Homo sapiens: one gene and its partners. The protein of the gene in region 1 purifies or fractionates together with the protein of each later gene. This does not show direct contact. Each region holds a gene or a part of one and is shown on either strand. Other genes may lie near its edges.

Region 1 (3,751 bases):
GGAATTGTTAAAGAGATAAATGCCTTGTCTTTCAGCATCCCTGATTATTTTAGAAATATCCTTATAGGGCTTTCTAACATTATCCTAATCCTCTATCACACTGCTTAATCATCCAAACCTCTCTTAAGAATTAGTCAGGAAATTCCTATTGTAACGCTTTGAGCAGATATTAGCAGGTATAGACAGGTTACCCTGAATTCCAGAGGACCAAAATTCAGGGAAGACAATGTATATAACTGCTGTAAGAGTAAATATGGACAAGATGAGTCAAAGCAAACTCTTCTTAACCCTAGATACCCAAAGCCATTGGATTCTGGCTCTCTTTAAAAGCCATTGGATTCTGACTATCTTTACTATGTCAGCATAGTTTGTTAAGAAAATGAGATTTGAGGATATTGTCTAACAATCTGGCTTTTTTTTTTTTTTTTGAGACAAGTTTGTTACTTGTGACAATCCCCAGCTTTCAGTAGCACATGAGTTTTTTTGAGTTTTCATAGATGTAAGAAGTTACCCCAAGGAACGGTTCAAATTATTTGTTCAAGTGAAAATGAATATCTGAAATTAAGCACAACCCAAAATGTGATCTATTTCTTTGTCCACTTGGGACTGTCTGGTCTAGCAGCAGTTATAATTTGATTGAGCCTTGACTGCTGCTCCTTTTTCCAAGACAGAATTAGCCAATTCCAATACCCTGTAAGCAGACACAGTCTGAGAAGAGAACAAACAGTTACTTAGTGACTGCCTGGGGGAAAAAAAATACCACTTGGTTCTCTTCACCTCTCCCTCTCTGAAATAATCCACTAAGTTTCTTGCCTATGACAGCTAGAACATGAAACAATCAGATATTAGAGCTACAGCCAATACTCTTTTTCACATTTCACAATGGGTTGTCAGATGCAGCACACAAAAAAATGTCAAATTTGCATAAATATCATAAGCATGTTGTGCCTATTTTCTCATTCTGTTCACTCTTTCTCATTAATTTGAGTGAGACAGTACAAGCTCTACAGACTGTGCGTCTTGTCCCCTGCACCTTTTTCCCCCTTCTGTTCTTGCTCTGTCCCCAGATGGTAAAATCCACCCTCAGGCTCACGTCTAGTGCACACAGGGAAGGGACTAAATCGGGATCTCCTGTGGAGGGGAGGGTTTTTTTTTTTAAGGTAAGAATTTATTTGTCTTATATTTATCTAATTTTATTAGAAGATGATGACTGTGGCATCGTCTACATGTTAGCCCCAGTGTTGAAAAAGAAAAGAAATCTGGACCTCCTGATTCATGGTCCCTTTTACCCCAGGGTGGCCATTTCTCAAGATCTGAGCGCAGCCCATCAGAAGACTTGAAGTGACCACAGACAGGGCAGGTCTTGGTGGAGGCAGGAGAACCGCAAGGATGGTATCTGAGAGGATATGACAAGATCAGGGCACATTGAGAAGACCTAGAAATTCCTCCCCTATTTCCCAAGCAAGTTCTGCTTTGCCTGCCCTCCTCCCCACAACCAACTACTGCGCGCCCCTCCTGGCTGCCACTCTGCTGTCCCTCATCCCATTTTCCCAAAGGAGCACGGGGACATCAGGAATGCGCTCCATCACAGAACCGCGACACACAGCCTCTACATAGCGTCTGAGTTGCAGGCAGGGGTCTCACAATCACCCTATTCTGTACGCAAGAGGCCCTTGGAATAAAGAGGAGGTAAGCTGCCCACGCTCAACCCTTTGCCCTGTCGCGTCCTCTTCCTCCTACGGAAAATAGCTGCGGGTCACTGAGACGCTTTTCAACATAACGCCAGCCCCAGAGCTCAGGTGAGACCTCTAGAGAGAAAGCTCGCAGGTACCTCATCCGCATGCTGTTATTATCTGCCAGCCCACTTATCCAGGAGCTCGGTCCTCAGCGGGCTGCGCGCACCGCGCGGAAGGGCGCATCTTCACCTCGTGGCTCTGGCGGCAGAGACGCGCGGGGCTTGCTCGGGAGCGAGGAGCGAAAAGTTGTGCGCCCACTTGGGTAGGGGGAAAGAGAGCGATCGAGCCAGCGCGGGAGAGCGAAGGGGGAAGGCGGGGAGGGGGCGGGGAGGGGGGACTGCTTACATGAATTTCCAAGTGGTAGACCTGCCTCTGCGCTCTGCCCAATGAGATCCGTCAGGGGAGGCACCCGGCTCACTTTTCCACATCACTTCACAGTTACATTTGGCAGGCAGGCGGGCTCGCACGCCGGAGCGCTCAGCCCAGAATTAGTGGATTTATTTGGAATCTCCCTGCCTCCTCCAAGCTCCGCCGCCGCCGCCGGCTTGTGCATAGACGGTAGCGTCAAGACACCAGCTGCACTTTGGGTTGCGGACACCCAGAGCCCAGCGCGCCCGCCCTGCGTCTCCGCACCAAGCCCTGTAGCTCCGAGAGGCATGAACGGAATCCGGAGGCGCCTGCCTAGCGAGCGAGGACCGGTCGGCGCTTGCCGCCCTCGGGAGCTAACCCCGAGCACCTCCAGCCATTTGTGAACCTGGAGGCTTGACATTCGCCAGCGCAGGGCCCCACAAGAGTAAGTGTTCCCCTAACCCACCCCCGTTTTCCTCTATGTTCCGACTATCCAGAAGGGACCGTTTCTTATAGGAATTCCCATGCCCCTTCGGACACCTTGCGCGCCTCCTGCCCCTCAGATGGTGGATGAGGGTTCTTAGCATAGGCTCTGGGCTAAGCTGTGTCTTTCGCGATATCCGTGGGTGATAACGTACGTACGCCTCAAGGTTTTGCCTGACTGTTTTTGCAAACTGCTTTGACAACAGATCCTAGAGAGTAGCAAGCTCCAGGCTGTGCCCCTCCAGTTTTCCTGCCGGTTTCCTTCCCTGCGGCGACTTGGCTATTTCGCCGCTTCCCAACGCAGGCAGGCGCGGCTGCAGCCGCGCGCCTTCACTGCGGGGTCCGTGCGGTGAATGGGAAGCACCTGCAGCCCGCTGTGCGGAGGGTGCAAGCCAGGGAAAAAAGGAGGCGAGGGGGCCCGAGTGGTCTATGGCTGGTTTTCTGCACCGCCTCATCTCCGAGGCGAGGGAGGGCGACCCCCGCGGCAGGGCTGCGGGCCAAGGCTCAGCTGCGAAAGCCCCAGCGCGAGGCTTTCCCACAAGTGGCAGCTCCAGCTCTGGGAGGTGCGGTGCCCGCTACAAACTTGCCGGGCTCCGGAGTCGCCCTGCGGCTCTGCCCTCGCCAAGACGCTGCCCAGCACCCCTGCAGGACCCCCAGGCAGTGTCTCCCCGCAACTCGAGATTGCGTGCACGGAGGCCCCCTTAAGCCGGGGACTCCGTAGCCGCTCTCCTAGGGACAGCTGAGCCCAGACCTGCGCTTTCTGTGGTCTGGCCGCTTCTCATCCGGGAACCTTTGAGGGGCTGGTCGCGCCCCTCGCAGGATCGGAGGGAAAAAGGCTCTTGCCTAGGTTCTGCCAGTACGTAAGAGGTTCATAAGGGACCTACTCCGGTTCTCCCAGGATCCAGCCAAGGCTGGGAAACGGTAAAAAAACGTGCTGCCGCCAACGCTGATGCCAACAGGTATCCACAATTTCCTCCGCTTATTCCTCCCAAACACCAGAGCCTTCCCCCACCCAGTCTGGCAGAATCCTCAAAGTTTCCTTGCGGTTGACCCTTCCCCCGCAGGCACGGAGCCGGCGGCATGTCAAGGACTAGCCGTTTGCCTCCACCAGCGGAGATGGCAGCTGTTTGCTTGGGTTGCTAAATGTAAGAAATCAAACCACATTAATTGTTTATTGTTGCAAA
Region 2 (3,751 bases), on another chromosome or scaffold:
GGCGCCTGTAGTCCCAGCTACTCGGGAGGCTGAGGCAGGAGAATGGCGTGAACCCGGGAGGCAGAGCTTGCAGTGAGCCGAGATCGCGCCACTGCACTCCAGCCTGGGCGACAGAGCAAGACTCTGTCTAAAAAAAAAAAAAAAAAAAAAAAAAAGGATGATGTCCACAAATCATACAAATCATTCTGTTTATCTTCCTCCCACTGACACTTCACTTTACTAAAGTTATCCATTCTCATACTACCGTTGTTTTGAACCTCACCCACACAACTCTCCAATATTACCTATTACTAATTTTTTCCCATTAAAAAAATTTAAAAGTTAGCTTTACCCACTCAGGAAGCCCATATATTCTGTAATGCAAGCACCTACATCTACCACAGATTCTCAGGTTTTAAGAGACCTTCGGACGGGCATGGTGGCTCACGCCTGTAATCCCAGCACTTTGGAAGGCCGAGGTGGGTGGATCATTTGAGGTCAGGAGTTCGAGACCAGCCTGGCCAATATGGTGAAACCCCCTCCTCTACTAAAAATACAAAAATCAGCCGGGCGTGGTGGCGGGCACCTGTAGTCCCAGCTACTCGGGAGGCTGAGGCAGGAGAATTGCTTGAACCCGGGAGGCAGAGGTTGCAGCAAGCAAAGATTGCACTACTACACTCTAGCCTGGGAGACAGAGCAAGACTCCGTCTCAAAAAAAAAAAAAAAGACCTTCAAGGGCATTAGTTCAACAAACGAAATTTGAGTTCTTTGAAGCATCCATTCTAATAGCAAACACAAGACATTACTAGGAGCTCTGCATTACTCTATAAAGTTCACATACATTAAATAACTTAAGTGTCACAACAATCTATAAGATGGTTAATATTATCCCCATTTTACAGACAAGGAGGCCAAGGCAGAGAGAGATTAAGCAATTTGCCCTAGGTTACATGTTTCCTCCGTGGCAGTCTAGCTCCCCATCCATACTCTTAATCATTATGTTATGCTGCCTTGCCTCACCATATTATGGAAGTCTCAGATTGGAAATTCCCTTTTTGGTTAGCATATTTACCAAAAAATATAGAATAAAGCATTTGTGGCAACATGTTAACAAATGATACCTAGGCAAATGAAGAGTATACCAGTTACTGTGCTAGAGCAACTTTCCTGCAAGTTTGAAATAAAAAGTTGAGAAGTGCTTTTGTCATCACATCACATCAACCAACCTGGGACATGTTTTGTGAAAGTCATGACCAAATTACCTACTGCTGACCAGCAAGGAAGGCTTTAAGATAAAATTCTGGCCGGGCGCAGTGGCTCAAGACTGTAATCTGGGAGGCCAAGGCAGGCGGATCATGAAGTCAGGAGTTTGAGACCAACCTGGCAAAAATGGTAAAACCCATCCCTACTAAATATACAAAAAATTAGCAGGGCGTGGTGGCGCGCACCTGTAGTCCCAGCTACTTGGGAGGCTGAGGCAGGAGAATCGCTTGAAACCGGGAGGCGGAGGTTGCAGTGAGCTGAGATCGTGCCACTGCACTCCAGCCTGGACAACAGAGCAAGACTCCATCTCAAAAAAAAAAAAAAAGATAAGAAAATTCTTTGCCTCTTTATAATTCCCCCACTATATGCCTGATCTAAATTGTCCACACCACACCAATCAAACTGAAGGGCTCACTGGAGAAGAAGTGGCCCTAAAAACAGGGAACACGATCCCTGAATAAAGTGGTAAATTCAGGCCCCATTCTCAATGCTTAATATTTAATAATAACATGCAATTCCAAGTAGAATTAGGGAAAAAAATTACTTCCGAAAAATACATTAAACAATTAAATACAAATCAATCCATACCCTAATTTCCCCCTCATTAGTTCTAACCAGAACAGTTGTTCTTGCCTTCTTACAATCTCCCTGCCAGGCTACATCAATGCTCTATTGGAAACCTTGGAGGCAGCTGCATAATTTAGGCAGAGCAATCCCTACTTCAGCTTTGTGTGTCATTTAACCCTTCTTTGAGGGAAGAGAACATGAAAGAATATTTGTACTTATTCACATCCTTATTACCTACAGTTCACTCCTGTAGGCAAGTTCCTTGTTAATACCTTTTAAATTACCCAAGAAAACTAATTTCGGTTCTTAAACTCATAAGCTTCCCAATACATGAACAAAATCTAAAGTTTTGTGGCTAAAACAGTGATTTAAAAAATACACTGATATCCAAACATACTTTCTTTGAAACACTGATGTTCAAAACTATCATCCCAAGCTCTTAACGTTTTTATTAACAAGCACAGAAACCATTCACCTCCAACCAGGGCTGAAAGCAGTACTTTTCTGCTGATGTCTTAATATACTCTCCCCTAGAAAATGGCAACATTTAAGGTTTTCAGTGTTGAAGTTCATTATGAAATGAACGGACTAGGATACTTATTATTTATTTATTTATTATTATTATTTTTTGAGATAGGATCTGGCTCTGCAAGCCCAGTCTGGAGGGCAGTGGCATGATCTCGGCTTGCTGCAACCAGTAGCTAGGACTACGGGTACATGCCACCACGCCCAGCTAATTTTTGTATTTTTTGTAAAGAGGAGTCTTCACCATGTTGCCCAGCGATCCACCCACCTGGACCTCCCAAACTGCCGGGATCACAGGCGTGAGCCACCGCACCAGGCCAGATCCTTACTTTTTATACTATTCTTTGTACCACTTGCCAAGAAAGGAACAGGATTAAAGAAAAGCTAAAATTTTAAATCCTCCATTATCTCTAGAAACTTTGCTTAAAAATATAAGGGAGGGCCAGGTGTGGTGGGGCACACCTATAATCCCAGCACTTTAGGAGGCCGAGGTAGGAGGATGGCTTGAGCCCAGGTGTTTGAGACCAGCCTGGACTACATAGAGAGACCCCATCTCCACAAAAATACACAAAAATTAGCCAAGCATAGTGGTGTGCACCCATAGTCCTAGCTACTCAGAAGACTGAGGTGGGAGCACCACTTGAGCCCAGGAGTTTGAGGCTGCAGTGAGCCATGATTTCACCACTGCACTCCAGCCTGGATGACAAGAGCAAGACCCTGTCTCAAAAAAAAAAAAAAAAAAAAAAATTAAGGGAGGAGACGCATAAAAGGTTAAAACTACAGACTACAGTAAAAGTTGCAAAAGTACATTGCAATTTGATTAATCTATGTTGTTTTGCTTCCTTTCAAGCCTTCCCCACAAATCAGTCCCTCACTGATTCTCATCAAATGCCTTATTTAACCAAGGCTTACTGAGCACCTCAGTATGTACCAAACACTAAGACAGGTGCTAAAAAGATACAGAGATAAGACAGTACCTACACCCAAGCTGCTCATAGTCTAGAGGGAAAGACAAGAATATCTGAACTACCTCCTACAAGCCTGTCCCTGCAAGTTGATGATATCCTATCATTCCAAACCACATACCTAACAAATTCTCTGGAAGAAGAAATTTTACTGATAAACAACGTGTGACACAATTCCAGGAAGTTTAAGAAATTAGGACAGCAATGGTGGGCATATGGATATGGAAAGATTCTCGTTCTAAAGATTAAAATAATATCCATTCTAGCACATCCAGCTCCCCATGGGCTCTATGGAAAATAGATCTTTTGCATACATTATCCCAACAAGGGTAGTGGGGAGTTGGAGGGAGTTGGAAATTTAAGTGAGTACTGCCCCTGTGCCAAGATGAAACACTCCTGCCTCTAGCAAGGGCTCGTTTTAGTTCGAGCTGTTGTTTCCATTCTCTCTGGAG
Region 3 (2,970 bases), on another chromosome or scaffold:
ACTTTCTTCCCATCCCCACCACCCACAGGCTCGCCAGAGCTAAAGACAGCGGAAATAGAGCCCAAGGCAGATGGCAGCTGGAGGGAAGGAGACGAAGTCACACTCATCTGCTCTGCCCGCGGCCATCCAGACCCCAAACTCAGCTGGAGCCAATTGGGGGGCAGCGTAAGGGACCTTCCTCTCCACCCTGAGCCCCCTCTCACTCATCCAAGTATCACACCCTCCTTTCCACTTCCTGGGAGACTGGACGTCGTTCACCTCTGCCCTTGACCCCACCCCTTGACCCCACCAGCCGGGGCCTGATCGGAGCCTCCATAGCCCGCAGAGCCAATCCCCGGACGGCAGGGTTGGGTGAGCAGCTCTCTGACCCTGAAAGTGACCAGCGCCCTGAGCCGCGATGGCATCTCCTGTGAAGCCTCCAACCCCCACGGGAACAAGCGCCATGTCTTCCACTTCGGCACCGGTGAGTGACTGAGGTGGTGGCAGAGGAGCCGGGTGTGGGGCAGACAGAGCCCACTGCCTGACCCACGCCTCTCTCCATCCTGTCCCTGCAGTGAGCCCCCAGACCTCCCAGGCTGGAGTGGCCGTCATGGCCGTGGCCGTCAGCGTGGGCCTCCTGCTCCTCGTCGTTGCTGTCTTCTACTGCGTGAGACGCAAAGGGGGCCCCTGCTGCCGCCAGCGGCGGGAGAAGGGGGCTCCGTGAGTGGCCTGCTATCTGCAATGACCACCATAGCTTAACCCCATCCCCACCCTCAACCCCAAGCTCAACCCATAACCTCAACCACATCTTATCCTCCACCCCACATCCCACCACATCCACCTCCATCCCCAACCCATCCTCATCCCCAACTACAGCCCCAAACCCAGCCCCAGACTAATCCACAGCCATCCCCAACTCATCCTCATCCCCAACTGCAGCCCCAAACCCAACCCAGGGCCATCCCCAAACCCATCCCCAAGCCAAACTCAACACCATCCCCTTCCCTAATCACCTCTCCTGCCCCTAGCTCAGCCTCATCCCCAACTCCATGCCTGTCTCCAATCCCAACCCTGCCCCCAATCTCCCCTCAACTCCAATCCATAACCCCCTTCAAACCATCCTCAACTAAGCTCCTCTCCAGCCCTGGCCACATCCCCATCCTCCCCCAACCTCCAGCCCCAACACCCATCATCCCCCTGAGCTCACCCTTAACTCCAATTTATCCTCCAAGCCTATCTCTCACCATCCAGCCCTCACCTAGCCATTTCCCAACCCTAGTCCTCCACCGTCCCGAAGCCAACTTCACCCATGTCCCCATCCCCAATCTTGTCCCCATTCCTGACTCCAAATCCAACCCCTAAGCCTCCCCAAGCTCCTCCTCATCTAACCTTGTCTCCAGCCCCAACCACATGGCCGTCCTCACCTCCAATCCGTAACCATCCCAGACCGATCCCAAAGCCAACTCCAGCTACATTCCCACCTCCAACCCCAATAGCATCTGCATCCCCATGCCCAACCCTAACCCCAGTGCCATTACCAGCCCCTACCCCATCCCTATGCCATCCCCACCCAGCACACCCCCATCCTCACCTCCATCCCCAGCCGCATCCTAGTCCCACCCACCCCCATCCTCAGTTCCTCCCCCTGCCGTGTGCACCTCCAACACGACGCCTCCGCCCGCTGCCTCCTCCCCCCAGGCCGCCAGGGGAGCCAGGGCTGAGCCACTCGGGGTCGGAGCAACCAGAGCAGACCGGCCTTCTCATGGGAGGTGCCTCCGGAGGAGCCAGGGGTGGCAGCGGGGGCTTCGGAGACGAGGTGGGTGAGGGCCTGGGCCCCCTGGTGAGAGGGACCTGCTGGGCAGTGGAGCACGCCCGTGGGCACAGGCTGACCTCTCCATCCGCTCCCCAGTGCTGAGCCAAGAACCTCCTAGAGGCTGTCCCTGGACCTGGAGCTGCAGGCATCAGAGAACCAGCCCTGCTCACGCCATGCCCGCCCCCGCCTTCCCTCTTCCCTCTTCCCTCTCCCTGCCCAGCCCTCCCTTCCTTCCTCTGCCGGCAAGGCAGGGACCCACAGTGGCTGCCTGCCTCCGGGAGGGAAGGAGAGGGAGGGTGGGTGGGTGGGAGGGGGCCTTCCTCCAGGGAATGTGACTCTCCCAGGCCCCAGAATAGCTCCTGGACCCAAGCCCAAGGCCCAGCCTGGGACAAGGCTCCGAGGGTCGGCTGGCCGGAGCTATTTTTACCTCCCGCCTCCCCTGCTGGTCCCCCCACCTGACGTCTTGCTGCAGAGTCTGACACTGGATTCCCCCCCCTCACCCCGCCCCTGGTCCCACTCCTGCCCCCGCCCTACCTCCGCCCCACCCCATCATCTGTGGACACTGGAGTCTGGAATAAATGCTGTTTGTCACATCAACACCATCCTGTGGCCAGAGCTTCCTCTGGGAGTAGGGAGGGGAAGGGCGATGCAGGTGATTCCCTGCTCTCAGCTGCCCCCCCATCCGCCCCCTTGCAAGACCTCAGAAGACGCCTGATGTCATGGAGAAAGAAATGAGACAGGGCTGGGCGCCGTGGTTCATTCTTGTAATCCCAGTGGTGGTGGCTCACGCCCGTAATCCCAGCACTTTAAGAGGCTGACACTGGAGGGTGGCTTCAGGCCAGGAGTTCAAGACCAGCCTGGGCAACATATGGAGACCCCATCGCTACAAATAATAATACTAATAATACAGAAATTAGCCAGGTGTGCCTATAGTCCCAGCTATTCAGGAGGCTAAGGTGGGAGGATTCCTTGAGCCCAGGAATACGAGGTTACAGTGAGCTATGATCACGCCATTGCACTCCAGCCTGGGTGACAAAGCGAGACTTCATCTCTAAAAAAAAAGAAGAAAACAAAAAGAGGCCAAGCTCAGTGGCTCAAACCTGTAATCCCAGCACTTTGGGAGACCAAGGCAGGGGGATCACTTTAGGTCAGGAGTTTGAGACCAGCCTGGCCAACAT

The links.
Region 2: the proteins of CDH8 (region 1) and CTNND1 purify together in Homo sapiens (co-immunoprecipitation; 3 studies listed by BioGRID and IntAct, with this or other methods). This does not show direct contact.
Region 3: the proteins of CDH8 (region 1) and BCAM purify together in Homo sapiens (co-immunoprecipitation; 3 studies listed by BioGRID and IntAct, with this or other methods). This does not show direct contact.

Annotation. Positions count from the first base shown.
Region 1 is NC_000016.10:62,034,858-62,038,608, reverse strand, and holds the start of CDH8 (cadherin-8 isoform 1 preproprotein), read left to right. Parts: upstream 1-2,170; 5' UTR 2,171-2,529; intron 2,530-3,422; exon of another isoform or gene 3,423-3,526; intron 3,527-3,751. UniProt on the Homo sapiens protein: Cadherins are calcium-dependent cell adhesion proteins. They preferentially interact with themselves in a homophilic manner in connecting cells; cadherins may thus contribute to the sorting of heterogeneous cell types.
Region 2 is NC_000011.10:57,764,791-57,768,541, reverse strand, and holds part of CTNND1 (catenin delta-1), read right to left. Parts: intron 1-3,751. UniProt on the Homo sapiens protein: Key regulator of cell-cell adhesion that associates with and regulates the cell adhesion properties of both C-, E- and N-cadherins, being critical for their surface stability.
Region 3 is NC_000019.10:44,819,028-44,821,997, forward strand, and holds the end of BCAM (basal cell adhesion molecule isoform 1 precursor), read left to right. Parts: intron 1-28; coding exon 29-165; intron 166-318; coding exon 319-463; intron 464-554; coding exon 555-699; coding exon of another isoform or gene 700-703; exon of another isoform or gene 704-1,677; coding exon 1,678-1,795; intron 1,796-1,888; coding exon 1,889-1,894; 3' UTR 1,895-2,394; downstream 2,395-2,970. UniProt on the Homo sapiens protein: Transmembrane glycoprotein that functions as both a receptor and an adhesion molecule playing a crucial role in cell adhesion, motility, migration and invasion.